Regions from separate parts of the Homo sapiens genome. Here all the other regions are linked to region 3. Evidence: fine-mapped expression QTL. A gene starts in region 3. Each other region holds a variant in brackets. All regions are shown on one strand. Distances are from middle to middle. Region 1 overlaps SEMA4C (semaphorin 4C). Region 2 overlaps CNNM4 (cyclin and CBS domain divalent metal cation transport mediator 4). Region 3 holds the start of CNNM3 (cyclin and CBS domain divalent metal cation transport mediator 3).

Evidence for each region. PIP is the estimated chance that this variant, and not a neighbour inherited with it, causes the effect.
Region 1: its variant is the best candidate, but not a certain one, in a credible set for the expression of CNNM3 in sun-exposed skin (GTEx, PIP 0.55).
Region 2: its variant is the best candidate, but not a certain one, in a credible set for the expression of CNNM3 in whole blood (TOPMed, PIP 0.60).

Annotation. Positions count from the first base shown.
Region 1 is chr2:96,859,604-96,865,530 of GRCh38, forward strand. It overlaps SEMA4C (semaphorin 4C), which reads right to left. Exons shown (of 15, transcript NM_017789.5): 6 at 5,838-5,927; 7 at 5,601-5,717; 8 at 5,361-5,512; 9 at 5,102-5,277; 10 at 4,635-4,779; 11 at 4,323-4,545; 12 at 4,079-4,191; 13 at 2,134-2,291; 14 at 1,976-2,046; 15 at 115-1,852. The coding sequence ends at 1,023. Among named protein-coding and RNA genes, the nearest start is that of ANKRD39, 4.6 kb to the left of the region's middle. The variant A/G (reference allele first, on the strand shown) is at 2,759.
Region 2 is chr2:96,786,073-96,796,996 of GRCh38, forward strand. All of the region lies in intron 1 of CNNM4 (cyclin and CBS domain divalent metal cation transport mediator 4), which reads left to right. Among named protein-coding and RNA genes, the nearest start is that of MIR3127, 6.7 kb to the right of the region's middle. The variant T/G (reference allele first, on the strand shown) is at 6,136.
Region 3 is chr2:96,811,026-96,821,949 of GRCh38, forward strand. It overlaps CNNM3 (cyclin and CBS domain divalent metal cation transport mediator 3), which reads left to right and starts at 5,243. Exons shown (of 8, transcript NM_017623.5): 1 at 5,243-6,477. The coding sequence starts at 5,253. It overlaps CNNM4 (cyclin and CBS domain divalent metal cation transport mediator 4), which reads left to right. Exons shown (of 7, transcript NM_020184.4): 7 at 1-849. CNNM3-DT (CNNM3 divergent transcript) reads right to left here and starts at 2,632. Exons shown (of 2, transcript NR_149141.1): 1 at 2,469-2,632; 2 at 1,214-1,464. RefSeq lists an enhancer at 4,390-4,509 and silencers at 4,850-5,829, 5,840-5,979, 5,990-6,099.

The DNA of each region.
Region 1 (5,927 bases), 46 kb after region 3:
CAGGGACCACAAAAGTGGTGGCTGCCCTGGGATTGTGGGGGAGGCCCAGTCCAGCCTCCCTCCACCCAGAGAGCCTTCCCTCTTGGTACCCAGAAAGGCTTTAGCCCAAACATCTTAGCCCCATCAGAGCAATCGTTTCATTTTCTCCATTTTATTTGTCAATATAAAAATACTCAAATATTTACAACAAATAAATACGCGGGGACACAATAAGTTACACTGTTAGGAGCCCTCCTCCTAGGGCTGGAAGAGAGTATGCCATTGTCCACAGCAGGCCCACCCTCTCCCTTCTCTCCCCTCACACAGCCTTTCCCAGCCCTGTACAGGAAGAAGGCAAGTATAAAATACCACTGAACCCCGGGGCCAAGTGGGAGGCCCCACCCACCCTTCCCCCCAAACACACAGGAGGCTCCATCTCCCTCCCCCCACCCTGAAAACATTCACAGCCCTAGGAGCAGGACTAGGCCCACCCCAAGCCCTGCACTCCCTCTGAAGGGGCACAGCACCCTGTCCACCCCACCTCCATATGTACATCGCTGCCCGACACTCGGGGCAGTGGGGGTAGGAGAGACAAAGTGATACGACCCCTTCCCCTTCATAGCTCCAATGACTCACCAGGAGGACCCAGGCCAAGGGAAGACTTGACAGAAACAGGAAGGCTATGCCACAAGCGCGCACGCGCGTGCACACACACATACACACACACACAAACACATGTGCAAATACAGACAAACACACATCTTGAAACTTCTGCCTTGAAAAGTTTTGGCGGCTGGGGTCCCGCGTGTCTGTGATTCACAGAGAGGAGGAAGATGCCTTCTGCGAGGCTGGTGCCCTGGTGAGCCACACCAAGTGGCAGTGCCCGTGCTGAGCAGAGCAGGTCCTCATGGCCGGGTGGGTGCTGGGCAGTATCTGTCCCAGACAGAGCAGGTGCCCGTGCCATGTCCCTGAGGTAGCTGGTGCCTGTGCAAAAGTAGGAGCTACACCTCCCACGCTTCCCGCCGACGCGGTGGGGGTTCCCCTCATACTGATGACTCCTCGGGGTTGGAGTCGGGCAGTGGCTGGCGTTGCTGCAGTTTGCGTCTCAGTTCATCCGCGAGCTCAGGCAGGGGGTGCCCGAGCCCTCCCCGGTCCTCCCCTCCTAGTTGTAAGCGCACGTAACCATTGGCATTTGAGTTCCGCCCACCCCCCAGGTGAAGCCGAGTTGGAGAAGGCAGAGGCTGGCCTGGGATGCCTGGAGGTGGCGAAGGGGGCCCCCCACCGGGCTGGCACCGGGCATGCCCAGGTACTATCTTAAGGGAGCCATCTGAATAGTAGTAACCGACAGGATCCCAAAGTTTCTCATCTGGTTCAGGACAGGGCCGGAAGGGGGGACTGGTGGGCTCCTTGGGCAGCTCCAGGGGGTACACCAAGGTCCTCTCAGTAGCCTTGGCCCCTTTCTCCAGCTCTTCCCGCAGCCGCCGGCGCAATGACAGCACCAGCAGCAGCAGCACCAGGCACACAGCCCCCAGGGCCACCACCGCCAGCCACACCAGCCCCAGGTTTTCCAGGGGGGCCCGGGCCTCCAAGGTCACCGACGGGCCTGCCACGACAGCCACAAGGTAGCCTTCAGCAGCCAGCCGCGCCCCCTGCTCCTCTGAAAAGCAGTGGTAGGCCCCGGCATGGCGGGGCTGGGCAGCCATCACAACCAGGGCCTGGAGCCGGGCATCGTAGAGGAAGGACCCGGGCTGTTCCGCAGGCAGGTCCCGGCCCCCAAAGGTCCAGCGGGCATGGGCCAAGTTGGAGGAGAGGTGGCAGGGCAGCACCAGGTCTGTGCCCGCCACCACCGTGATGTTTTTGGGAGTGGGCCTGACTGTAGTGGCAGAGAAAACAGAGTGCATGTTAGTGCAGGAAAGCAGGGCTGGGGAAGAGGAGAACAGAAACTCCAGCTCTGGTCCAGGGCTCAGCCCGATGCGACGGGAATGAAAAAGCTCACCTTTCTTACTGCCACGGAGGTTGCAGATGCCTGAAGTGTCCGAGGTCATCACATGCTGGATCAGTAGAGATCTGGTAGGGGATGTAGGGTACATCAGCAGCCTGGCTCCAACCACCCTGAGTCCCTGGAGGTCCTGGCCTATGTAGAGCCCAACTCACCCAGAGTGGCCACCCACGGCCACACAGCGGCTGGTGTTGACGCTCCAGGCGCAATAGGGGTCCCGGGCGAGGACACAGTCTGCACAGGAGCGATACTTCATGCAGTCGGCCACGGGCAGCTGCACCAGCTGAGAGCGGGAGCCGGCAAAGAGCAGCTTCTGCGAGAAAAGCGGGGCGCAGGAGGGGGGTCGGCCAGGGCCACACCACGGGAGGGGCGGCCGGACCAGAACGCAGCATGGGGACAGCTTGGACTCCTGCAGGGGGCACAGCACGGGGCGCCAGAAGGAGGAACAAGGGAACAAGGCAGAGCTATAGTGCTGAAAAGGGAACTCTAAGAACCGCAGAACTCAGAGGGCTTACACAGGCCAGATGCAATCCTAAGCCCCTTATCGACGTGACGTTATTAGAAAGGGATGATGGGGCTGTGAGGCCAAAAAGTATAATCACACACACTCACACACACATAGTGCAGGAAATACATTTCAAGGCCCATCAGCCCTCACAACAGCAGCAGCATAACATAAGATGTTTTCCTGTTTCAACGGTGGATGCCAATCTGTGTGTTTATTCAACCACACACTTTCTTTCTGCCATTATTCCATGTTCTAGGGGACAATTTTGAGTC[A/G]TAATAGCTGGTAAAAGGCAAACAAATCAAAGTTCAGGAGGTGTAGCAAACATGCCACAAGAGTATTGCACAAGGCAACTAGGAACAGCAGGTCATGCCTGGAATCCCAGCACTTTGGGAGGCTGAGGTGGGCAAATCACTTGAGGTTAGGAGTTCAAGACCAGCCTGGCCAACATGGTAAAACCTTGTCTCTACTAAAAATACAAAAATTAGCCGGCTGGCCAGGCGCAGTGGCTCACGCCTGTAATCCCAGCACTTTGGGAGGCTGAGTCGGGCGGATCGCAAGGTCAGGAGATCGAGACCATCCTGGCTAACACGGTGAAACCCCGTCTCTACTAAAAATACAAAAAATTAGCCAGGCGTGGTGATGGGAGCCTGTAGTCCCAGCTACATGGAAGGCTGAGGCAGGAGAATGGTGTGAACCTGGGAGGCAGAGCTTGCAGTGAGCCGAGATTGCGCCACTGCACTCCAGCCTGGGTGACAGAGCGAGACTCCATCTCAAAAAAAAAAAAAAAAAAAAAAATTAGCTGGGCATGGTGGCACGTGCCTGTAGTCCCAGTTACTTGGGAGGCCGAGGCAGAATTGCTTGAACCCGGGAGGTGGAGGTTGCAGTGAGCAGAGATCATGCCACCGCACTCCAGCCTGGGCGACAGAGTGAGACTCCATCTCAAAGAAAACAAAAACAAAAACAAAAAACCTTTAGCTGGGCATAGTGGCAGGCACCTGTAATCCCAGCTACTCAGGAGGCTGAGGCATAAGAATAGCTTCAACCTGGGAGGTGGAGGTTGCAGTGAGCTGAGATCGCGTCACTGCACTCTAGCCTGGGTGACAGAGTGAGACTCCATCTCAAAAAAAAACCAAAAAGAGTATTGCACAAGGGTATAATGCAAGCACTTCAGGGAAACAGTCACGGAAATGGGGGCTGGAAGGAAAACCACCATGGTGAGGGCATCATAAACATCTCACAGCCTGGGAGGTCTGGTCACAGGGGCATGGTCAGGGAAGAGGCCAGAGCCAGAACCACAGCACAGCTTGGAGGGTCTGAAAGAAACATGGGAGCAGTTGCCAAGGCTTGATGCTGGGAGCGCAGCCCCGTGACCTGGCTATATATAATGGCCCTGTGCAGTGCAGATTCCATTCTGTTTTCATTCTCGTTTCCAGGAACCCACCCCAAGTTAGGCAAGGTGTGCATCCACATGTGTGTGTGTTCCTAACTCTGCACTGGCCAAGCACATAGGCCCAACTGGGAGAAGCAGCCAGATGGAGAGAGTGAGATGGGATAGTGCTGGGGACAGTGGCAGATAGGGCCCAACTTACTACCTTGCTCTGAGATAGCACCAGGCTTCTCATGGGCTCCTGGTCAAACAGCTGCAGCTCCTCAATCAGGTGAACCCAGGGCCCCAGGCTCACAGCCTTGAGCAGCCAGCCGTCTCCTGGGGGGTGCAGAGGAGAAGGTGTAAATGAGAGGGCACAAGGCCGTGGGGCAGCTCCAAATCTCCCTGCCCTGGGCACACGGGCTTCTGCCCAGCCTTGAGCAGCCATGCCTGCATACCCATGCACCCACCTGTGCCAATGAACAGCACTGTATAGGTGGCTCCATCAAGTCCTGTAACCCGGTCGGCCACCAGGTGGGTGAAGTTGGTGCCCTTCTTCACGAGCAGGGGGCGGCTCCACCGAGGCCCCACCTGCTCCTCCATCAGCGGGTGCTTCTTGACGAAGTTGAGGATGTTGTCGGGTAGCTCCAGGGAGCTGGTGTAGCCGTGGCGCCGATGCCAGTTGTTAATGCACTGGGGGCAGGGTGTGGGGGGCAGGCCATCAGCAGGGTGGGATGGCACCGCAGCTGGGTGGGGAGATGCATCCCTGCCCTAGCACTCACCGAGCCAGGCCGAGGGCTGGGTACAGGGTCAGTGTAGCGGTCCCACTTCTGGGCTTCCTCATGGTACTCCTTATAGGGGCCCTCAAACACCCGCTGGATCTCTTCCAACTGGTACTCACAGATGGCCGACAGGTACATGTCACCCCTGTCACAGCGAGAGGGAGCCCAGGGTCAGGTACCCACCTTATCTCTTCCCACCCCAGCTAAGGGCAAGCAGCAGGAAGGCAGGGCCTGGCACAAACTGGCCATGGGTACCAGAATGCCCTGGCAGCTCAAGTGCCACCTGGCATGGGGCCCTGCCCCTTCACAGGCAGCTCTGAAAGGGGCAGGTGCCAGCATTCTCCTTGGCTTCTGGACACCTGGCTTCCGGGACTGCCTCTGAGGCCTGGTCCAGGCTCCCACCCATGCACCGTCCCTGACCTGAACCCCAGCTCCTCCCCACTCTGTGGGAGCCCTGGCCAACTCACCACTGTGCTTGAAAAACCCCAAAGAAGGTGGTGTTGTGCCAGGAGGTGTCCTGCAGGGTGTGCATCGCCTGCAGCTGGTTGAAGTAGAGCTGCCAGTTCGGGGCAGAGCATGCCAGCCGCGCCTTCAGGAACGTGGTCCACTTCCTCTGCAGGGTCCGTGCGCCCCCCATATCGCCCTGGCAGACGGCAAGGGGACACTGCCGGTCAGCCCCGCTGGGCCAGCAGGGCTCCCAGGGCCCACCGCTGTGAGACTCGGTACCTTGCAGACACGGGCCACACGAGCCACCACCTGCTCGGCATAGCAGTCGGACTCCACTGCCCGCTCCCTGAAGAAGAAGTAGACCTTGTCGTCGTCCCCCGTGAAGCTGCCCACACTCTCAGGTACATAGGCAGAGCCTACAAAGTGAGGTTCTGTGGGAAGGGGAGGAGGTCAGCAGGGAGGGGCTGGGCCCCGGGGGACCTCCCACCCATGGCTCCCACAGGCCCCCCGGTGGCTCACCGTTGAGCCAAAAGGCCAGGTACTCTGTCTTCATGGAGTGGTGGGGCCCCATGTTACGCAGGATAATGGGTTCCGTGCCCAGGAAGTTGTTGAGTGTGGCCGAGTACAGCTCACCATCTATGGGAGACAGAGGTCAGCTAGGCCACACATGAGGTATGGACACATCCGGCCAACACAGACCCAAGTGGAACCAAGCCCCAAGGACTCACCCAGCCTGCATGGGGGGCAGCCACTCACCCACAAGAAGGCCAGCATGGCCCTTAGCTGGGTCATAGGGACACTTGCCCTTCCCATCTTCAAACTCTCCATGCTCCAAAGTGAAGGTGA
Region 2 (10,924 bases), 25 kb before region 3:
TGAGACTCTGTCTCAAATAAAGAAAAAAAAAAGATAAAAATAATTTTTAAAAAGTAAAGATAGGCCTGGCGCGGCAGCTCACGTCTGTAATCCCAGCACTTTGGGAAGCTGAGGTGGGTGGATCACCTGAGGTAGGGAGTTTGAAACCAGCGTGGCCAACATGGCGAAACCCCGTCTCTACTAAAAACACAAAAATTAGCCAGGAATGGTGGCATGCTCCTGTAATCCCAGCTACTCGAGATGAGGCAGGAGAATTGCTTGAACCTGGGAGGCAGAGGCTGCAGTGAGCCAAGATCGTGCTATTGCACTCCAGCCTGGGTGGCAGAGCAAGACTCTGTCTCAAAAAAAAAAAAAAAGTTCTTAAAAAGTAGTGTATTAGAGAAACTTAGAAAAGTGGAAAATGATTAAGAAATGAAAGTCACATGGCCAGGTACGGTGGCTCATGCCTGTAATCCCAGCACTTTGGGAGGCCCAGGTGGGCAGATCACTTGAGGTCAGGAGTTCCAGACCAACCTGGCCAACATGGTGAAACCCCGTCTACTAAAAAATACAAAAAATTAGCTCAGCGTGGTGGCAGGCACCTGTAATCCCAGCTATTTGGGAGGCCGAGGCATGAGAATGGCTTGAACTTGGGAAGCGGAGGTTGCAGTGAGCTGGGATCGCACCACTGCACTCCATCCTGGGTAACAGAGCAAGACTCTGTCTCAAAAAAAAAAAAAAAAAAAAAAAAAAGTCACTCTTATCCCATCATCCAAAATGTGGATATTTTGGTGTATTTTCTTCTACCAAGTCAGCAACAAATGATATTGCTTCTCCCCCAATATGAAAATAGTGTCTAATTAGAAGAGTAAAAATAAAAAATAGCATGTGAAGTATAAAATGCATTAAGCAAAAGTGAAGGAAACCAGCAGTCCTTCCTACTCTACTGTTTTGGAACTTTTTACTTTACACAAATAGTGAATCACCGTCTCTTGAGATAAATTCATGTCTGAGTCAGCCTTTTTAAGAGCCCTGCAATATTGTTACAAATAACATTGGCAGGCCCTCCTGGGCACACCTTGCATGCTGGCCTGGGTGTTTCCTTTGTATTAAGGTCACTTCCTAGGGTTGGGAGAAATGGCAGAGTCCAAGGTCTTGCATATTTTACATTTTGGCACATACTGCCAAATTTCTGAAGTAAAAATTGAACTTCCAACGGTGGGTAGTTCTCCTGCCAACACTGAGAGTACCAATCTCTGAAATCTTGACTAATATGATAGGTAAAAAATGAGTTCATTTTGAAAATTTGTATTTCCTTATATTTTGTTTGTATTTATTGTATTTCTATTTAAAATTAAGCTAGTGGTTTTTCTTAGGGATTTATAAGTCTGGTATAAAACAGTGACTTTGGACCAGTTAGCCCAGTAACTTTCATTGAATAATCTCTCTTTTCTCCTGCAATTTAATATACCAGATTTATTATATACAGTATTCCCAATTTGTTGGAGTTTATTTCTGTCCATAAGCCAGGCATGGTGACTCACGCCTACAGTCCCAGCATTTGGGGAGGCCATGGTGGGAGGATCGCTTGAGCCCAGGAGTTCGAGATCAGCCTGGGCAGCATAGTGAAACCTCATCTCTACAAAATTTTTTTTAAAAATTAGCTGAGCTTAGTGGCATGCCCTATAGTCCCAGCTACTTGGGAGGCTGAGGTAGGAGGTTCACTTGAGCCCAGGAAGTCAAAGTTGCAGTGAGCTGTGATTGTGCCACTGTACTGCAGCCTGGGTGACAGAATGAGACCCTGTCTAAAAAAAATTGAAGTAAAATAAATATTTCTGTCCATTGTTCTCTCCAGTACCGCACTGTTTTTGTTTTGTTTGCTTGTTTTTGAGACAGAGTCTCGCTGTGTTGCCCAGGCTGGAGTGCAGTAGTGCAATCTCAACTCACTACAACTTTAGCCTCCCAGGTTCAAGTGATTCTCCTGCCTCAGCCTGCTGAGTAGCTGGGATTACAGGCCTGTGCCACCATGCCTAACTGATTTTTGTATTTTTAGTAGAGATGGGGCTTCACCATGTTGGCCAGGCTGGTCTTGAACTCCTGACCTCAAGTGATCCGCCCATTTTGGCCTCCCAAAGTGCTGGGATTACAGGCATGAGCCACAGTGCCCTGCCCAGTACTACACTGTTTTAATCGCTGTAATCTTTTTTTTTTTTTTTTTCTGGAGACAGGGTCTCACTCTGTCTCAGAGTCTAGCGAGTATAGAGTGTATGGCCTGCCTGCTGGGCCACCGCAGCCTTCTGGTCTTCTGGCCTTTGCCTGGACTGACTGCCCTGACTGCCAGCTGTGTCTCTGGGAGGAAGGGAGCAACATAGATGAGCCCTGTTTAGGATTATGGATGAACCCAGCTGCCCTCCCCGAGGCTAGAGGGCAGGGGCTTGTCACTCTGGCTGGTTCCTCTCCTGCCCTGGCTCTGCCTTCTTGCTGGGCTGGCTGCCACTCATCCCGGTGGTTGAGGTCAGCACTATTAATAGCCAGCTTAATCCTGCGGGAGCTTGGGTGAAGGGAGGAAAGAGCAGAGAATCGCCAAGAAATCAGGGTGCTCAGCTATCTGCAGGTGTGGACCCAGGGCCCAAGCCTGTGGCTTCCAGTCAGTCCAGCCCGCACCTCTCCCATGGGAGGGCCTGAGAGCGCGGGAACATCCTGGGCCCCTGGGATCTCAGAGGCTGGACCTTCCTGGGAGACTCATTGAGTAAGATGCAGAGGACTCCTTCTTGGGTGGTGGGAGTCCCTGGTCTGCTCTGGGGCCCCTGGCTTTTCCCCATGAGAAAAAGCAGCTGGAGCTGGTGAGTAGGGCCCTCTCATGGCCCCTGTGGACTTTGTAACCCAGCACCTATAATACGGTTTTCTTAAGGACTTCAAGGGGCTGTAAAGTCTTTTTTTATGGAGGGCGGGGAAGGAGGACGCAGCAGTTTGCTAAAATGGGCATTGTGCAGGGTGGGGCCATCCTTTCTGTATCCAGCAGGGGTGTGGAGCACCTGCTGTGCTAGGCATAGTGGGAGGGGTTGGGGTAGCATGGCGAGGAGCGAGGGCACTACTCAGGCCTCGCCAGGCTGCAGCCTGGTCAGTGGGAGATAGACGCCGGTCAGCCGATGGCACAGAGCTGTGAAGGGAAGAAATGGGTCGGGATCCAGGGCCCTAAAAGACAACATGGCTAACACCCAGGGCTAACGTTTGAGCCCAGGGCAGAAGGATAAAGAGGTGACACGGAGGCTGGGGAGCAGGAGGAGCTGTGAGGGACTCAGGCAGGGCTGGGATCCTCCTTGCCCTTGTGCCAGCTGTGAGGGAGGCTGAGGCTGGCACCTGTGGTCTGCCCAGCCCTCCGGGGTTTCTGGAGGCCTCACATGGTGTTCTTTGACTGTGGAGGGCACGGTCCCACCTGGCTGCTGCTGGACAGAGGTCGCTGGAGGGCAGAGTGGGCAAGCATGCCGCCAGGCAAAGCCTGGAGAAGACAGTGGGGACAGCCAGGGTGCCAGGAACCTTCTTTCTGGACCCCCTTTCTTGCAGTGCTTGGAAAGGGCTTGGGGAGGCTCAGGAACCCTGAAGTCCCAGAGGAAGCGGTATTAGAATTTTATTTTATTTTATTAGTTAATTTTTTTTTTTTTTGAGACAGAGTCTGTGTCGCCCAGGCTGGAGTACAGTGGTGCGATCTCGGCTCACTGCAACCTCCGCCTCCTAGGTTCAAGTGATTCTCCTGCCTCAGCCTCCTGAGTAGCTGGGATTACAGGCCCGCGCCACCACGCCTGGCTAATTTTTGTATTTTTAGTAGAGACGGTGTTTCACCATGTTGGTCAGGCTGGTCTTGAACTCCTGACCTCGTGATCCACCCACCCCCCGCCCCCGGCCCTCCAAAATGCTGGGATTACAGGCGTGAGCCAACACACCCGGGCTAGAATTTTTTTTTTTTTTTTTTTTTTTGAGACGGAGTCTTGCTGTTGCCCAGGCTGGAGTGCAGTGGCGTGATCTCGGCTCACTGCAGGCTCCGCCTCCCGGGTTCACGCCATTCTCCTGCCTCAGCCTCCCAAGTAGCTGGGACTACAGGCGTCCACCACCTCACCCGGCTAATTTTTTGTATTTTTAGTAGAGATGGGGTTTCACCGTGTTAGCCAGGATGGTCTCGATCTCCTGACCTCGTGATCCACGCGCCTCGGTCTCCCAAAGTGCTGAGATTACAGGCGTGAGCCACCGCACCCGGCCTAGAATTTTTTTTTAAAGTTAATTTGATGGATGTGTTTTTTTGTTTGTTTATTTATTTGTTTTTTTGAGACAGAGTTTAACTCTTGTTGCCCAGGCTGGAGTGCAATGGCACGATCTCGGCGCACTGCAACCTCCACCTCCCAGATTCAAGCGATTCTCCTGCCTCAGCCTCCCGAGTAGTTGGGATTACAAGCATGTGCCACCATGCTTGGCTAATTTTGTATTTTTAGTAGAGATGGAGTTTCTCCATGTTGGTCAGGCTGGTCTCAAACTCCCCACCTCAGGTGATCCGCCTGCCTCGGCCTCCCAAAGTGCTGGGATTACAGGCATGAGCCACCGCGCCCGGCCTAATGGATGTGTTTTTTTTTTCTCATTATGAGATTAATACTATTGGCTGGGCATGGTGGCTCACCCTTGTAATCCCAGCACTTTGGGAGGCCGAGGTGGGCGGATGGATCACTTGAGGTTGGGAGTTAGAGACCAGCCTAGGGAACATGATAAAATCTCATCTCTACTAAAAATACAAAAATCCAGCTGGGCACAGTGGCTCATGTCTGTAATCCCAGCACTTTGGGAGGTTGAGGCGGGTGGATCACCTGAGGTCAGAAGTTCGAGACCAGCCTGGCCAGTATGGTGAAACCCTGTCTCTATTAAAAATACAAAAATTAGCTGGGCATGGTGGCCTGTGCCTGTAGTCCCAGCTACTCGGGAGGCTGAGAGAGGATAATTGCTTGATCCGGGGAGATGGAGGTTGCAGTAAGCTGAGATCGCACCACTGCACTCCAGCCTGAACAACAGAGTGAGACTCTGTCTCAAAAAAAAAAAAAAAAAAATTAAAATACAAAAATTAGCCAGGCATGGTGGTGCATGCCTATAGTCCCAGCTACTCAGGAGGCTGGTGATCCACCTGCCATGGCCTCCCAAAGTGCTGGGATTTCAGGTGTAAGCCACAGCGCCCAGCCCGTAAAATTGTATTTTAATGAGCTACCTTATGTTATTATTGGTGTCCATTCAATTGGCTGATTAGATTTTGGGGGTGGCATCGGCTGGGTACAGTGGCTCATGCCTGTAATCCCGGCACTTAGGGAGGCTGAGGTGGGTGGATCACCTGAGGTCAGGAGCTCGAGACCAGCCTGGCCAACATGGTGAAATTCCGTCTCTACTAAAAATACAAAAAATTAGCTGGGTGTGGTGGCGGGCGCCTGTAATCCCAGCTAGTCAGGAGGCTGAGGCAGAAGAATCCACTGCACTTGAGCCTGGGCAAAAGAGAAAGACTCCGTCTCAAAAAAAAAAAAAAGAAAGAAACATGGAAATTAAAACAATACATCTACAGCTAAAAATCCACATTTTTCAAAGTAGTCCTTAGTCAATGAAAAATGACTGAGGAAATATAGCAAAATGTTAGTATTTGCTTGAGCCATATAAAATTGCTGATATTCAATTATATTTTACCAAAACCAGCAATTCATGTGGCTTAATCTACATATGGGGGATTCAGGATGGTTTCTATTTTCTGTTTTCTTTTTATATTTTCCTATATAAAAAATTCCAAATTTTTCATAATCAATAGTATTAATTTCTTTTTTTCTTTGAGATGGAGTCACTCGCTCTGTTGCCCAGGCTGGAGTGCAGTGGCATGATCTTGCCTCACTACAACCTCCACCTCCTGGGTTCAAGCAATTCTGCGCCTGAAATCTCAGCACTTTGGGAGGCCGAGGTGGGCTGAACACTTGAGATCAGGAGCAGGAGAGTAGCCTGGCCAACATGGTGAAACCCCATCTCTACTAAAAATACAAAAAATTAGCCGAGTGTGGTGGCAGGTGCCTGTAATCAGGCAGACTGAGGTGGGAGAATCACTGGAACCTGTGAGGTGGAGATTGCAGTGAGCTGAGATCACGCCAC[T/G]GCACTCCAGCCTGGGTGACAGAGTGAGACTCCAGCTCAAAAAAAAAAAAAAAACCACACACACACAAAAATACAATTTTATTAGAATTTATACAATGAGAATCCTAAATATAAGCCCTAAATTGATCTGCTTATTTTAGATGTTAAATCAGTTAGCAATAATTTCCGAAGTATAGAAACTTCTAAATTAGTAAAATCTAAAATAATTCTTTCCATCTTCGGCCTCCCTTCCCCTTCCCCGCTCCCCTTCCCCTCACTGGTTACTTTTCTCCTCCTGCTAAATGGATGTAGAGGCACAAAGAAAGACAGGAGGGACTGGTCACGGTGGCTCACACCTGTAATCCCAGCACTCTGGGAGGCCGAGGAGGGTGGATCACCTGAGGTCAGGAGTTCGTGACCAGCCTGACCAACATGGTGAAACCCCATCTCTACTAAAAATACAAAAAATTAGCTGGGTGTGGTGGCGGGCGCCTGTAATCCCAGCTACTTGGCAGGCTGAGGCAGGAGAATCCCTTGAACCTGCTAGGTGGAGGTTGCAGTGAGCTGAGATCGCGCCACTGTACTCCAGCCTGGCGACAGAGCAAGACTACATCTCAAAAAAAAAAGAGAGGAGGTCAGGCTCACCGTCCCATGGGCCTGATAACTGGGACAGAGCTGCCCTAAAGGGAGACAGGAGTGTTGGGGGGATGGGCATGAGCTGGGTTTTGGCTGCGTTAATTTCAAGGTATTAGTGACGTCAGGCAGCACTTGGATAGAGGAATCTGGAGGGCACGGGAGAGGACAGGGCTGCAGAGATTTATTTGGGACACTTGTACACTTGTATTTAAAGTTGCTAGGCAAGGGACCAGGTGTACAGACTGAGTTCTGAGTCTCTCCAGCATTTAAGTGGTCAGGGAGAAGCAGTGACTCCTGAGGTCAGGAGCACTGGGAGGGCTGTGCCCTGGAAGCCCTGGGCAGAAAGGGCTTCCAGGGGAAAGGAGGGAGTCACCGTTGGTCAGCAGGTCATCTGAGAATAACACTCCACCATGAAAGGTCATTGGTGACCTTGACCAGAGGCTCTCTGGCCCGGGGAGGGGAAAATTCTACCAGGACAAAAAGATGTCCCCTCTGGACAGACAAATTAGAAAATAGGAAAAACAGCCCAGGGGCCCAAAGCTCACCCTGCAGAGGGTGACTGACTGGCCCCTTAGGCTGGAACCTCTGTACGGAACCCCAGTTGGCCAGCCATCAGGCAGTGCCCAAAGCTCAGCTTGCAGAGGAGGGGTGAACGTGTACATGGTGCTCAGGGCTGTACACCTACAAGGTGCCTGTCATGCAGCTGGCTGCCACCCGAGGGTGCACACACACAGCAGTGGATCCCGCCAAGGGGTCTCAGAGAGGAGGCGGGGGGCGGAGAATGGTATCAAGACCCTGCTCAGGGAATCAGCTCATTTCATCCGCAGGAGGGCTGTTTCCACTATAAGAGAGGCTGCCAGGCCGGGCGCGGTGGCTGACATCTGTAATCCCAGCACCCTGGGAGGCCAAGGCAGAATGATCACTTGAGGTCAGGAGTTCGAGACCAGCCTGGCCAACCTGGCGAAACCCCGTCTCTACTAAAAATGCAAAATTAGCTGGGTATGGTGGCGCACACCCAGCTACTCAGGAGGCTGAGGCAGGAGAATCGCTTGAACCTGGGAGGTGAAGGTTGCAGTGAGCTGAGATTGTACCACTGTACTCCAGCCTGGGCCACTCCAGCCTAGGCTACACAGTGAGAGTCTGTCTCAAAAAAAATAAAAACAGAGAGAGGCCAGCAGCCTTTCACTGTGAGGGAACCTTTCGTTGGTCAGGATTTGGTCTGAGCCTGTGGAGTAATTAGGGATGTGAATGTAGTGGAGAGGTTGTTTTCTGACTTTGGGGGTCTGAACAAGGTTCTGCTCACTGAACCTTGTCAAAGAACACACCCCCATTCCCTGGGGCTCGATCTGTGGCAGTAAAAAGCACAGAGGGCCCTTGTCCACCCTAGAGACTCTCACCAGTTTCCCTTTGTTCTCCTTAATTTTGTTTTCCCCCTTAATTTTGTCTCAGTTTTGTTTTTAAATTATAAAAGTAAAACATGCCCATCAAATATAACAGTATAGAAGGGTATATAGAGAGGCAAAATAGCCTCCTCCCCAAACTCCAAATACCCCCAAAGGTGACCACTCTTACTACTTCTGGACGCTTCCAGGGCAGTTCAAGCCCACACACGCCTTTGTTTCTGTGAAGGCAGATGGCTCCATGCATTCTGTTCCGTGACTTGCTCTTTCACTAATAGCGTATCTTGGATTTCGTTCCGCGCTTTATTCATCCACCTCTGCCGTGTTCTCCCTTGAGTAGCTGTGGCCCCTTTTGAGTCCCTGTGCCCTATTGCTATTGCTTTAGGTTGTTTCTGGTTTGGGGCTGTTAAAAAGAATGTTGCCAAGAGCCCCCTTCTCTTGTGTCTTTTGTGAAGGTTGCCTCTCCCTAGGGTGAGTTCCTAGAAGTGGACCTTCTAAGTCCAAGGTTAGGAACCCTTGATTTTGTGACATCCTGACCAACTGGCCCCCTGAAATGTACCCTTTTACCTGGCCACCAACCAGATACATGTGAGGGCCTGTTTGTCTTCCCCATCCTCCACCATAACTGGGCATTACCAGGCTTTTTAGAGGGTGCCCATCTGGAAGGGGGTACAGGTTGGGCATCCCGAATCCAAAAATCCAAAATCCCAAATGCTCCAAAATCCAAAACTTTTTGAGTACCAACATGATGCTCAAAAGAAATGCTCATTGGAGCATTTTGTAGTTCAGATTTTCAGATTTGGGATGCCCAATGGCGTGTATTCTGCAAATATTCCAAAATCCAAAAAAATCTGAAATCTGAAACACTTCTGATCCCCAGTGAGGAATAAGGGATACTCAGCCTGTCAAAGCTGCCTTGCTTTAATTCCCATCCCCATGTGGTGACATGGTTTAGCTAGATGCCCAGGCCCTTCCAGGCACTGTCTTTCTGGAGGGCACTCCTGTATGGACAGCCTCCAGCAGGCACAGAGGCCTGGGGGCGGACCCCAGGGTCCCGGCCTGGCCCGCTGCCGCCCTGCTGGAGGGCCTCACAGATCTCTTGAACTTGTTGGCTCATCTCTAGGAAGATACTGGGGTATTTTCAATCGAGTCCAGCCATGGCTTTGTCTAGCAAGACGCTAAATGTTTTTTGACCAGAACCTGTAGTGGGAAATACATATATCATAGCCCCTGGCATGTGTGTGAAAAACTTTCACAATGCAGTACCCCCCCCCCCATCACATGGGGTGTATTGTGAGAATTTTTACTTTAGTCATGAGACCTCACATTCTCTCTGCTCTCCCTAAGAGGCCCTTAGAAGTTCTTAACAGCCCATCTTGGGCTGGGGGATTTTCTGTGGCCTTAAAGACCTGGAAAACATCCTCCACCGAGGGTATTTAGGATGAGTTCTTTAGTCCCTAGAGCGAGGCCCTTGGATTGTGAAGGGGAAGCCATGCAGAAGACCCTGACTTGACCTTCCCAGATTTCCGGGGGCCTTTCTTCCTAGGCTGCTCCAAACCTGTGTTCCTGCGAGTGGGGTATGGCACACAGGACTCATTCCACCTAGACTGTGGACCTAGCCCTTCTTGGCTGGACCCTCTTGCCACTCATGGGGCTGGGGCCATAAGAACAGGGTGTGGCCTTCAAAAAGGGGTCTGGGAAGACCCACCACCCCACAGGGTTTCTGTGGAGGGTCCTGCCCCATGCCAGCCTCCTTCCCTCACTTTGGGTTGAGGGGGTGGCCCCTCTCTAATTGTAGTCTCTGCCCCACCTAATCACAGTGCTCGGCCTCTCTGTGCCCTTGTCAGTTTGGGTCTTTCCCCTCCCCAAGAGTTCCAGAAGCCCCTGATAAGTGATACCAGACAGGGTCTTTTTTTTTTTTTTTTTTTTTTTTTTTTTTTGAGACAGAGTCTTGCTCTGTTGCCCAGGCTGGAGTGCAGTGGCGTGATCTCGGCTCACTGCAACCTCTGCCTCCCGGGTTCAAGCAATTCTCCTGCCTCAGCCTTCCGAGTAGCTGGGACTACAGGTGTGTACTACCACACCTAGCTGATTTTTGTATTTTTAGTAGAGATGGGGTTTTACCGTGTTGGCCAGGCTGGTCTCAAACTCCTGGCCTCAAGCAATCTGCCCGCTTCAGCCCGTCCAAGGTGCTGGGATTACAGATGTGAGCCATTGCTCCCAGCATTGCCATTTTTATCCGATTTAAACAAGTAGTCCTGGCCTGGCGTGGTGGCTCATTCCTGTATTCCCAGCACTTTGGGAGGCTGAGATGGGAGGACTGCTTGAGCCCAGGAGTTTGAGACCAGCTTGAGCAACATAGCGAGATCCATCTCTACAAAAAATAAAAGAGTTAGCCAGGCATGGTGGAGCACACCTGTGGTCTCAGCTACTCGGGAGGCTGAGGTGGGAGGATCTCTTGAGCCCAGAAGTTGGCGGCTGCAGTGAGCTATGATTGCGCCACTGCACTCCAGCCTGGGTAACAGAGCTAGACCCTGTCCTTCCTCCACAAAAACAGAGAAAAACAAAAAAGTGGTCCTTAACGACATGCTTTTAAAAATTACTTTTAGTTTTCCTTTTCATAAAAGCAATGTCTGTTTGCAGTAGAAACGTCAGGAAAGATGGAAAAGATAAAAACCACCATGACCCCATCCTGGTGACTTATGACCCTACGTCTAGAGTTAATGTTTTGGTTGAGGGAGTCTCATGACTGGCCTCTGGGCTCTTGTCTGACTTGC
Region 3 (10,924 bases):
GGCCTTCCGCCTGATTATTATTTATTCACTCCTTTCCTCACCCCAAGTGCCCTGCTCTCCAGGTGCCTAGAGTATCCTAACTCTTAGGACCAGGGATTGTCTTGCACCAAGTATGCCTACCCCTGGCCAGTCTGAGGTCTCCTAGCCATAGAACTGACTCCTGGAAGCCTGGAGAGAAGGTGGTGACACCCATGGGTTCTCAACTGTAAGGAAAAAAGACACCAGACTTTTGTTCCCTAGTGGGGGAAAGCCCTTAGTCTTGTACAGGAGCAGCTTGCTCCCAAGTCCTTTTGGAAGCTGGCAGAGCTATATTCCTGACAGCCCTGACTGCCAGGTAGAGCAAAAGACATTGGTGGGGGTATGTGAAGCAAAAGGGGCAGGTGCACACACCTCCACAGTGACCTCTGTGCACACGGTTACCACCAACTGGCTGGCCCTCCTCCTCTTCCCTGGCCCATTGATCATCCCTTCTCACAGAGGGTCATCATTATTTCCAAATATTGTTTGTCTGATGACTTCCTCTTCCCAGTGCAATTTTTCCCTTCCTATTTCAACCTCTGGTTCCTGGGATGAGCCATACCCTGGAACTGGCCCACCCACTGTGTCTTCCACGTAAGGGAGACCTTTGCAAAGGGCATCCAAATGGGTAGGCAGGTGACAGCCGCCGTATTTATTTTGCATAATATTTTAATTTGTATATTTTTGTGATTTATTTTGGCGTTATGAGTTTGACTCTCGGGGAGTTTTGTTGTTATGACTCTTGTGTCTTTTGTCACAAAACAATGATATTTGCTAAACGATATATGGAATTTATTTTTGATTGGTAATAAAAAATCAAATATGTATAAATCCTGGTGAATCTACAACTTGCCTGTTTGTTCTGTCAGTATTCAGTATGTTGTTGAGATAAAAGTGGCTGTGGCTGGCTGTCTCTTGTGATGGGACAAGGGCAATAAAGGATTCTAGGACCATTCAGCAGTGAAATGCAATCAGAAATGGAATTTCTAAATATAGTCAAGGCTGTCGTCACAGGAGTGAGAGGGACGTGGCTGCTGGCAGACATACAGGACAGATGTGCTCAGCTGCCATAAGCATGAGTCCTGTGAAACAGATCCCATAGGGCCCTTGGCTTGTGAGTACTGGAAGGGCAGTGGGCTTCAGCAAATTGCCCCTCCTCCCTACCCATGGGACTGAAAGAAGCTTGATCCAAAAGTATGAGTAATATTGTTTTATAACATGCAGCTGCCTTTTCGTCCACACCTACAGGCTAGTGGTTTCAAAGTTGGAGTGTTCATCCCTTGAAGAACCTGAGTTACGTCACTATACCCACTCTCAAAGTTGCAGCTCTGCAGGGGACTCCCATGGTGCTGTACAGGTGCTGCAGGCTGGCTTGTGCGATTGAGTGTGCTGAGGCCAGGGGCTCCAAGCATGCAAAGTTCAATGGAGTAGACAAACTGGGGGCATCTATGTAGGCAACAAAGAAAAGAGGATATTCCAGATAAAAGAGGTACACATGCCAACGTCTGTGTCTGGGGCAAGATTTGTAAATTATCTTCATCCATCTGTTCCACACGTTTAAATCCCTTTCGCACGCCAGGTACTACCAACCCCTCTGTGAATTTAATGAAGAACCTTCCCACCACCCCAAGGGGGACAGTCACACACAGCTTTTCCATTTGCTGTCTCCCTGACCTGGGACACATCTCCTAAGTCTTGGCGAGGCTCACCCCTTATTTCATTTAAGCCTCAGTTCAAATGCCATCTCCTTGAGAAGGCTTCCGATTAGCCCATCTCAATCAGCATCACCCCAGCATCTGTCTCTTTATCTTGCCTTTTTCCCTCCATAGCACTTACTACCAAATATTGAAATATAGACTTGGGTATTTTCTATCGTCCTTGCGCTAGAATCTAGCCTCACAAGGGTAGGGACTTAATTTTATTCCCACTACAGTCCCAACACTAGAACAGTACCTGCTACACTGCAGGGACTCAATGCAGGAAATACTTGTTGAATGAATAAATGAATACATGTTACAACAGGGGATGTACTGGATGATATGGGGAGAGCACATAGCTCCAATAACCTTGAGCCAACCTAGTCGAGGGTCAAGGAAGATCACTCGGAGGGAGCAGCATATGAGCTAAGGCTTGAGAGAGAAGCAGGAATTAGCCGGTGGGTTTAAAACTCAAGAATAAATATTTAGATATAACATGGAAATGTCTTGATCCAAAAGACCAGTAAGGAAAACGGCCCAGGGAGGGCCAACAGTGGTCTGAAGGTCAAGTGGCTGTGTCTCCACTGATGCTAACCAGGGGTGGGGTAAAGAATGGCACAGCCACAGGAGAAGCTGGTCAAGGACTGTTGAGGCCTCTACTGCAAAAGGGAAACCACTCCAGGAGCAGCTTTGCGTGCCCCATATTGGATTTTTTTGTATCTTTGGGTACTGACAATTTAAATGACCACTTACGTTTTCCAAGTTTGATCCAATTGTTCTTCCACCTGAAGCTTTACTCCCAGAAAGTTAGTTATAGGTTGTTTTCCAAGGAAGCCTGAGACAAGGAAAAAGTAACCTGTTGAAGGTGAGAGCTCTGTCTCTAAATCCATGGGGAGTTTTTCCTGGCTTTTCTCTGGAACTGTTGTTTGTTAATGACTTTTCAGGCACATGACTCATTTCAAGCATGTCATCCATTCTATTTCAATGTCAGTATTTTATCTTGACGTGGAGACAGAAGTGAGAACTAAAGGAGCTGAATCTATTGTAATGTTTGCACTTTTTTTTTCTTCAGAGGCATGATGTTGCAGTGCAAAGGCCCAGTAATGTCTTTATTGCTTCTGCTGGCGGCTTACTCTGTAATCTGCAAAAGTAAGGTAAACTCAAAGGGCACAGAACATCACCTGAATAATAAAAAACACGGAGATGCCCCATTGGCCTAGTCACAGCTCTGAGTTTACAATGCAGAAGAGACACTATTACCATCTTTTAAAAATACACTATTACCTTTTTTTTTTTGAGATGGAGTCTCGCTCTGTCACCCAGGCTGGAGTGCAGTGGTGCGATCTTGGCTCACTGCAACCTCCGACTGCCTCCCGGGTTCAAGCGATTCTCCTGCCGCAGCCTCCTCAGTAGTTGGGACTACAGGCACCCGCCACCAAGCCCGGCTAATTTTTTGTATTTTTCGTAGAGACGGGGTTTCACCGTGTTAGCCAGGATGGTCTCCATCTTCTGACCTCGTGATGTGCCCGCCTTAGCCTCCCAAAGTGCTGGGATTACAGGCATGAGCCACCGCGCCGGGCCACTATTACCATTTTTTTTTTTTTGAGACATAGTCTTGCTCTGTCGCCCAGGCTGGAGTGCAGTGGCGTGGTCTCAGCTCACTGCAAGCTCCGCCTCCCGGGTTCACACCATTCTCCTGCCTCAGCCTCCCGAGTAGCTGGGACTACAGGTGCACGCCACCACACCTGGCTAATTTTTTGTATTTTTAGTACAGATGGGGTTTCACCATGTTAGTCCGGATGGTCTCGATCTCCTGACCTCGTGATCCGCCCGCCTCCGCCTCCCAAAGTGCTGGGATTACAGGCGTGAGCCACCGTGCCCGGCCAGCTATTACCATCTTTTAAAAAGTTTTTTACAGGCCGGGCGCGGTGGCTCACGCTTGTAATCCCAGCACTTTGGGAGGCCAAGGTGGGTGGATCACGAGGTCAGGAGATCGAGACCACGGTGAAACCCCGTCTCTACTAAAAATACAAAAAAATTAGCCGGGCGTGGTGGCGGGCGCCTGTAGTCCCAGCTACTCGGAGAGGCTGAGGCAGGAGAATGGCGTGAACCCGGGAGGCGGAGCTTGCAGTGAGCCGAGACTGCGTCACTGCACTCCAGCCTGGGTGACAGAGCGAGACTCCGTCTCAAAAAAAAAAAAAAAAGTTTTTTACAAAGCCTTTTCCTTTGGTCACTCACCACCAGCTTACTCATTTTTTTTTTTTTTTGCACATTACCTTCCACACAAGTTTTACTTTGTGGCCACAATGTGCATACTTTTTTTGATTGTTACTTTCATGACATAGCAAATTGTTTCTATAGAGTCTTTATAAAGGTCATTTAAAATGACATGTGCAGTAAGTCAAAGTCTTCTTGTGCTAGGAAATTTGAAAAAACAAAAGTGTAGAGAAAAATACAAAAATTACTGAATCTGAACATCTATAGAGAAGTGTTGTTAGCAGTTGGTTTATTTCCTTCCAATCACATACAGATCATATCTGATGGGTAAAGAATATTCCATACTGTCAACAGACCACACTGTCTTCTAAAATCGCTTCAGCAGTGAGGATCCTCTGGAATAGATCTTGTTAATCCTGAGGAATTATTCTCCCAGCGGTGAGCTATGAGAAGTGGAATCACCAGATGTAGTAATTCCTGACAGAACTGCCGCCTGCTTGTGTGGCTGAGATGCTGACCTAGGTATCAGGCTGGTCGCGCCGGAACCCAGCACCCACGCTGAGTCTTTCTGAGCTCCACTCTGCTCCTGTTAGATATTAACCACCTGAGGTAGCTGTCCAGATTCAAGGCGGTAGTGATTTTGTGTGTCTGTGTATTTATCACGGGGTCCGCGGCGGGAACGCAGGGGCTGTGTCCCACGTCCCCAAACCTCTAGTAGGGTACGGCGCGATGAACATCTTCCATAAACCTTAAACCTCCCGGCGCTCAGTCACTGGTTCTTATTTCAGCCCTCTTAGCCCCGTAGGTCGGCGCGCTGAAAACCTTTCTGGTACCTGGGGCCTTTCCTAAGAAAAAGGCACATGTCTCGCACATTTCAGTCTGGTCTGCAACTTCAGGCGCGCCAGCACCCGAGGTTCTTCCGACCGGCCGCTCCGCTCCCAAGCCGGGAACTTCCCAGAGAATTGGCTCGGCCTCCGGGCGCGGGGGACAGCATCGGGAGGAGTGGGACTCCGGGCGCCGCGCACGGGCCGAGGACAGCCGGGCTTGGGAGGCCCTGCCCGCCGCCCCGCGTCCTCCCGGCCACTGCCACCCCGCGCATCCGGAGCCGCAGCAGACTCGGCGGGGCCCGGAGCCCCACGCCCCCGGCCCGCCCCTGGCCGCCACTTGTTTACTCCCCGGCGCAGCCTAGTCCGACCCTGGGGCCCGCCCCCGCCCACCGCCTATTGGCCGAGGAGGCGCGAAGAGCCGTAACGATTGGCCCGGGGAGGCGCGGGGCGAGCGGGGTAGGCTGCGCGAGAGGCCGAGAGGGGGCAGCAGGCGATGGCGGCGGCGGTAGCTGCGGCGGGTCGGTTAGGCTGGTTGTTCGCCGCGCTCTGCCTGGGCAACGCCGCGGGGGAGGCCGCGCCGGGCCCGCGAGTGCTGGGCTTCTGCCTGGAGGAGGATGGAGCGGCGGGCGCGGGTTGGGTACGCGGAGGGGCGGCGCGGGACACGCCGGACGCCACCTTCCTCCTGCGCCTCTTCGGCCCGGGCTTCGCCAACAGCTCTTGGTCCTGGGTGGCCCCGGAGGGGGCGGGCTGCCGGGAGGAGGCGGCCTCCCCCGCGGGCGAGTGGCGCGCGCTGCTGCGCTTGCGCCTGCGGGCCGAGGCCGTGCGCCCGCACTCGGCGCTGCTGGCGGTGCGCGTGGAGCCGGGTGGCGGGGCGGCTGAGGAGGCGGCGCCGCCCTGGGCTCTGGGCCTGGGGGCGGCCGGGCTGCTGGCGCTGGCAGCGCTGGCGCGAGGCCTGCAGCTGAGCGCGCTGGCGCTGGCGCCTGCCGAGGTGCAGGTGCTGCGCGAGAGCGGCTCGGAGGCGGAGCGTGCGGCGGCGCGGCGTTTGGAGCCCGCGCGGCGCTGGGCCGGCTGCGCCTTGGGCGCGCTGCTGCTGCTGGCCAGCCTGGCGCAGGCGGCGCTGGCGGTGCTGCTGTACCGCGCGGCCGGCCAGCGTGCGGTGCCCGCCGTGTTGGGCAGCGCGGGGCTCGTGTTCCTGGTGGGAGAGGTGGTGCCGGCCGCCGTGAGCGGGCGCTGGACGCTGGCGCTGGCGCCGCGAGCGCTCGGCCTCAGCCGCCTGGCCGTCCTGCTCACTCTGCCCGTCGCGCTGCCCGTGGGGCAGCTGCTGGAGCTGGCGGCGCGGCCCGGGCGGCTGCGGGAGCGGGTGCTGGAGCTGGCGCGCGGCGGCGGCGACCCCTACAGCGATCTCAGCAAGGGCGTGCTGCGCTGCCGGACCGTGGAGGACGTGCTCACGCCCCTCGAAGACTGCTTCATGCTGGACGCCAGCACCGTGCTGGACTTCGGCGTCCTGGCCAGCATCATGCAGAGCGGCCACACGCGCATCCCGGTGTACGAGGAGGAGCGCTCCAACATCGTGGACATGCTCTACCTCAAGGACTTGGCCTTCGTGGATCCCGAAGACTGCACGCCGCTCAGCACCATCACTCGTTTCTACAACCATCCGCTCCACTTCGTCTTCAACGACACCAAGCTGGACGCTGTCCTGGAGGAATTCAAGCGAGGTAACGGCCCGGGCATGGTGCAGGGGACGCCCGTGCGAGTGCCCTCTCCCTGAAAAGGGGTGGAGAGTTATGGAAGCCTTCTGGAAAGGGTCCCACCCCTGTGGAGAGCAGTGAGACCTCTAAGGTCCCTTTTCAAGACGGTATTGGCCTTGCAGCTTGGAATGACCTTTTGAAATACTTAAAGGCCATCGATCAGAGTGGGAGGAATCCTTTAGACAGCGAACACTTTAACCCCCGCGTCAGGATAGCCCCCCCCCCCCATTTGCAGGGAGGGGTATGTCCGCTTGTCCTCTAATCCCCCAGCTCTTTCCCTCTCCCAGAGTGTTTCTGTGTGCTTGACTTTGTAGCAGGTCCAAATTTTTGGATAGAAACTAGAAGAACATAGAAAAGATGGTAGTCTCCAGGTATCTGGGATATTGTTGTGTGCACACATGTAATATCAAATTGACTGGACCTGTAATGTTTCCTTCAGAGCATTCTTAAGGTCCCTGGCGTTACTGCAGATAAGGGTATTTAGGTGTCAATCCCTTATCTGCGGTAAAGTCAGGGAAACTTAACACTTTGCTTTCACCAAAAGTAACTCCATTTATGCTGACTTAGTCTCCCTTTCTCCCAGCTCTGTCGCGCAGGCTGGAGTGCAGTGGCCGATCTCTTATCACTGCAACTTTCGCCTCCCAGGTTCAAGCAGTTCTCCTGCCTCAGCCTTCGAGTAGCTGGGACTACAGATGCACCCCACCATTCCGGGCTAATTTTTGTATTTTTAGTAAAGATGGGGTTTCACCACGTTGACCAAGCTGGTCTTGAACTCCTGACCAGGTGATCCACTTGCCTCGCCCTCCCAAAGTGCTGTGATTGCAGGCGTGAGCCACTGTGCCCGGCCCTTTTTTTTTTTTTTTTGCTTTTTAATCTCCTGTTTTTTAAAATTTTATGTAGAGACAGGGTCTCACTATTTTGCCCAGCCTGGTCTCGAACTCCTGACCTCAAGTGATCCTCCCACCTTGGCCTCCCAAAGTGTTGGGATTACAGGCGTGAGCCACCGCGCCCAGCCTCACCTCTTCTTTTCTAACCCTAAGGTCTCAAGTTCTCCCTTAACTCCACATTTTCATCCCTCCCTTCACTGTTTTAGCTGAGCAGTTCGGAGATTGAAGGTAAAACCAGTACCCTCCGGATGTGAAGGTGTGGTTTCTTCTGCAGTCCTCTCCAACATCATCCTTAGTGGTGCTCCCCAGAGTTTGGTGCTCAGACCTTGGTTAACAGCCATGCTTCTCACACCTGCACTCCTGTAGGGTGAGGGTGGGAGCACCCCAGGGTGTTGGATGGACTTGACCCTAAAGGCTGCCAGCTGTAAGGCCAAGAAGTGGCAAAGCCCCCTGGTATTTGTGGCAGGATGTTTCTGGCACCGTCTGTTGAGAGCCCCTGGCCTGTCGTTGCAGGAAGCCAGGCTTTGTGATAATGACCGCTACTCCTGACTGAGCACTGCCGTGTGCCAGGAGCTGATGGGCACTTTCTGTGTAATCTCGTCCCTCATTCCTTGCAGGAGGCCTGGGTGCTAAGTTACTGTTACTGCTGTAGCTCAGGAATGGGTGGGAGGCTTGGGTGGGCAGCTCTATTCTTTTAGACTCTTGGGTGCTCCTGGCTGTGTCCCTAGAACATGGCCATGCCACCCTGCCCTGGGGAGGGAGCCTGGGTTTGGGTCCAGACAGAGCCTCGCGGTGGTAAGTACTCCCATCTGGGCTGCCAGAGGCAGCCCCTGAGGCAGGGGTGGTTCTCCTGGTGTGGTGGCCAACATTGCAACCCTGGAATCAGCGGAGTAGGTTCCATCCTGCCCTTGCCTGCCCCCAGGCCCTGAAGGCTGCTCAGCCTCTTGTGGTGCAAAGTCCTCTGCTGTTAGTGATAAGAGTGGGTAAACAGACCTGCGGGGGGAGACTCATCAAGCACTTTGGCCAGTGCCTGGCGTGCATATGCTGTGTGCTTGGCGTTAGCAGGTGGTTCTTACTCCGGGACAGGCTCTGCTGGTAGGTGAGCTGTTTGCCAATCCAGGAGCAAGGGGTGAATCTGGAATTGCAGATTTCTGTTCTTCTAGGCAGGTCACCAGACTTCCTTTTTTTTAGGGAAAAAGTGGAAGACTGTAGCTGTCCTTTTGGTGTTCAAAGCACTCACGTTTCTAGATTCTTTAAGAAAAAGCTCACTCTGGTGTCTGGCTTCAGCTGGCTGCTGCTTTCAACAGTTGAGCAGTCACCAAGCAGAGATTTGGAGCAGCGGAGATGGAAGGGTTGTCCTGTTCAGAACTAAAGGCAACTTCTGTAGTTGGTCATGATGCTCAGGATGAGGCTGGTGAAAGTGGTCTTTCATTTTCCAAACCGCCAGTGTCAGGATCTTCGCTGCCATGGTCTTGTCTTTCAGATGCGATGGATGAGCTTGGTCCAGGGTGGTTGGGGATTCCACTTGGGGAAGAATAAAAAATGTTCATGTTCGTTGGGAAGGAGCGCAGAGGCAGGATGTCCCCTGGCGGGGGGGCTTGTGTGCTGTGTAAGGAACTTGTACTTGATCACCAGGGCCATGAGCATCAAGCAGCAGCATCAGTTATTTTTACAGATCAGTAACAATTGTGGACACCAGCGCAGGGAGACCAGCGGTGTGAGGGATCCAGGTGAGAGGGGATGATAACCTGAACAAGGTTCATGGCAGGCCTGGAGAGGAGCCCCAAGAGGGCAGCAGAGGTGGAATTGGGAAGATTGGTATCTGGCAGCAGGGCTATGCAACAAGGAGGAGCAGCTGAGGATGAGGCCCAGATTTCTGGCTGTGTGGTGGCGGTGCGCCTTCACTAAGGGCCGGGCGTGGGGAGCAGGTTTTGGCCATTGAATTTGTGTCTGTGCAGTGTCCCAAGAGGCAAACTCCTAGCAGGCCGTTGATGTGAAATGCAAGTGGGAGGCAGAATAGGAGTGTCTCTCAAGTCATGGGAGGGAGGCAGAGAGCCTCAGCCTCCTAGGAGCACAGGTGTGTCAGGGGCAAGGGAAGCCCAGGAGAAGCTGGCCAGGAGGAGGCAAGACCAAGGAAGGAGGAGTTCCCGAGATGCGGAATGTCCTGGAAGCTAAGGGAAGAGACCACTTTCCCAGGGAAGGTGAGTGACAGGAGAGGAGGCCAGCAAACAGGATGCCGTTGACCTTTGCAAGAGCAGATTTGGTGCCACGGCAAGGGAGCCATTTGGGGAATGAATGAGGTGTGGAAAGGTACGAGAACCAATGTAGACAGCCCTCCACAGAGTGTGGCTGCAGAGAGAAGTGACTGGCAGAGGATGTGGGACAGGGGAGGAGGCCTTCTGCTGTTTGGTTTTAAGATGGGCAAGTCCAGTAGGTTCAGATTGAAATGCAGGTTGAAATGTAGCTAGGAAGGAAATTAGAGAGGCCAGGGTCCGGGCTGCTCCTGTTCTGGGCTGGGTGGCCTCCAGGCAGGTCACAAGCAGCCCGATGCAGGAGGATTTGGGGTTGAGTGCCTCTGCTTGAAACAGACCTTTCTAAAAGCTGCCTGACAACATGCTGAAAAGGATCCCCTTGGAAGACAGTGGGGGAGGTTTTTGGAACCTGGAGGTTAAATGGGGAGCTCTTTAATCCCCCTTGACTTCCCCGCTCCTGTGGTGAGTGAGGGCCATTCGTGGGCAGACTGGCCATGTCTTTCTGGTGACATCCCGGAGCTTTTTTCTCTGCTTCTCTAGTTCAGTGCAGTCCTTTGGCAAATATCTTTATTTTTTCCGTGTTAAAGTCCTTTTTGTCCTTCCTAACCTTCTTAAGCATTCCTCCACTTAGGAACAAAGGGCATATTGCAGTCTTTGTGGCGTGTGAGGTTTTAAAAATCGATTCCCTTTCCATCTCTCTGCCAAGCTAATGAGCCTCTGAATTTCGTGGAGCTGGAGTCCCTGCCATCTTGGCAGCTTTCATTCCGGGTCTTGTTTCTTTTGCTGTGTCTGCTAGGGAACTTTGTAGTCTGGGGGCAAGGTAACCTCCCCAGCAAGGCGCCCCTCAATCAGTGCCAACTTGAGATGACGTGCTGATTATTTTGTGCAGACGTCACCAGGAAGAGTGAGTGCTTTGGAGCCATAATAAATAACTTGGACAGCTGCTCCTTGACTTACAAATGGAGTTATGTCCTGATAAACCCATTGTAAGTTGAAAATACCTTAAGTCAAAAATGTGTTTGATACATCTAACCTACCAAACCAAATAGTTCAGCCTGGCCCACCTTAAACATGCTCAGAACACTTACTTTAGCCTGCAGTTGGGCAAAGTCATCTAACACAAAACTATTTTAAAATAAAGTGTTGAATATCTCATGTAATTTATTGACTGCTGTACTGAAAGTGAAAACAGAATGGTTATATGTGTTTGAAGTATGGTTTCTACTGAATGCATATTGCTTTTGAACCATCAAATTTGAAAAATTGTAATTTGAA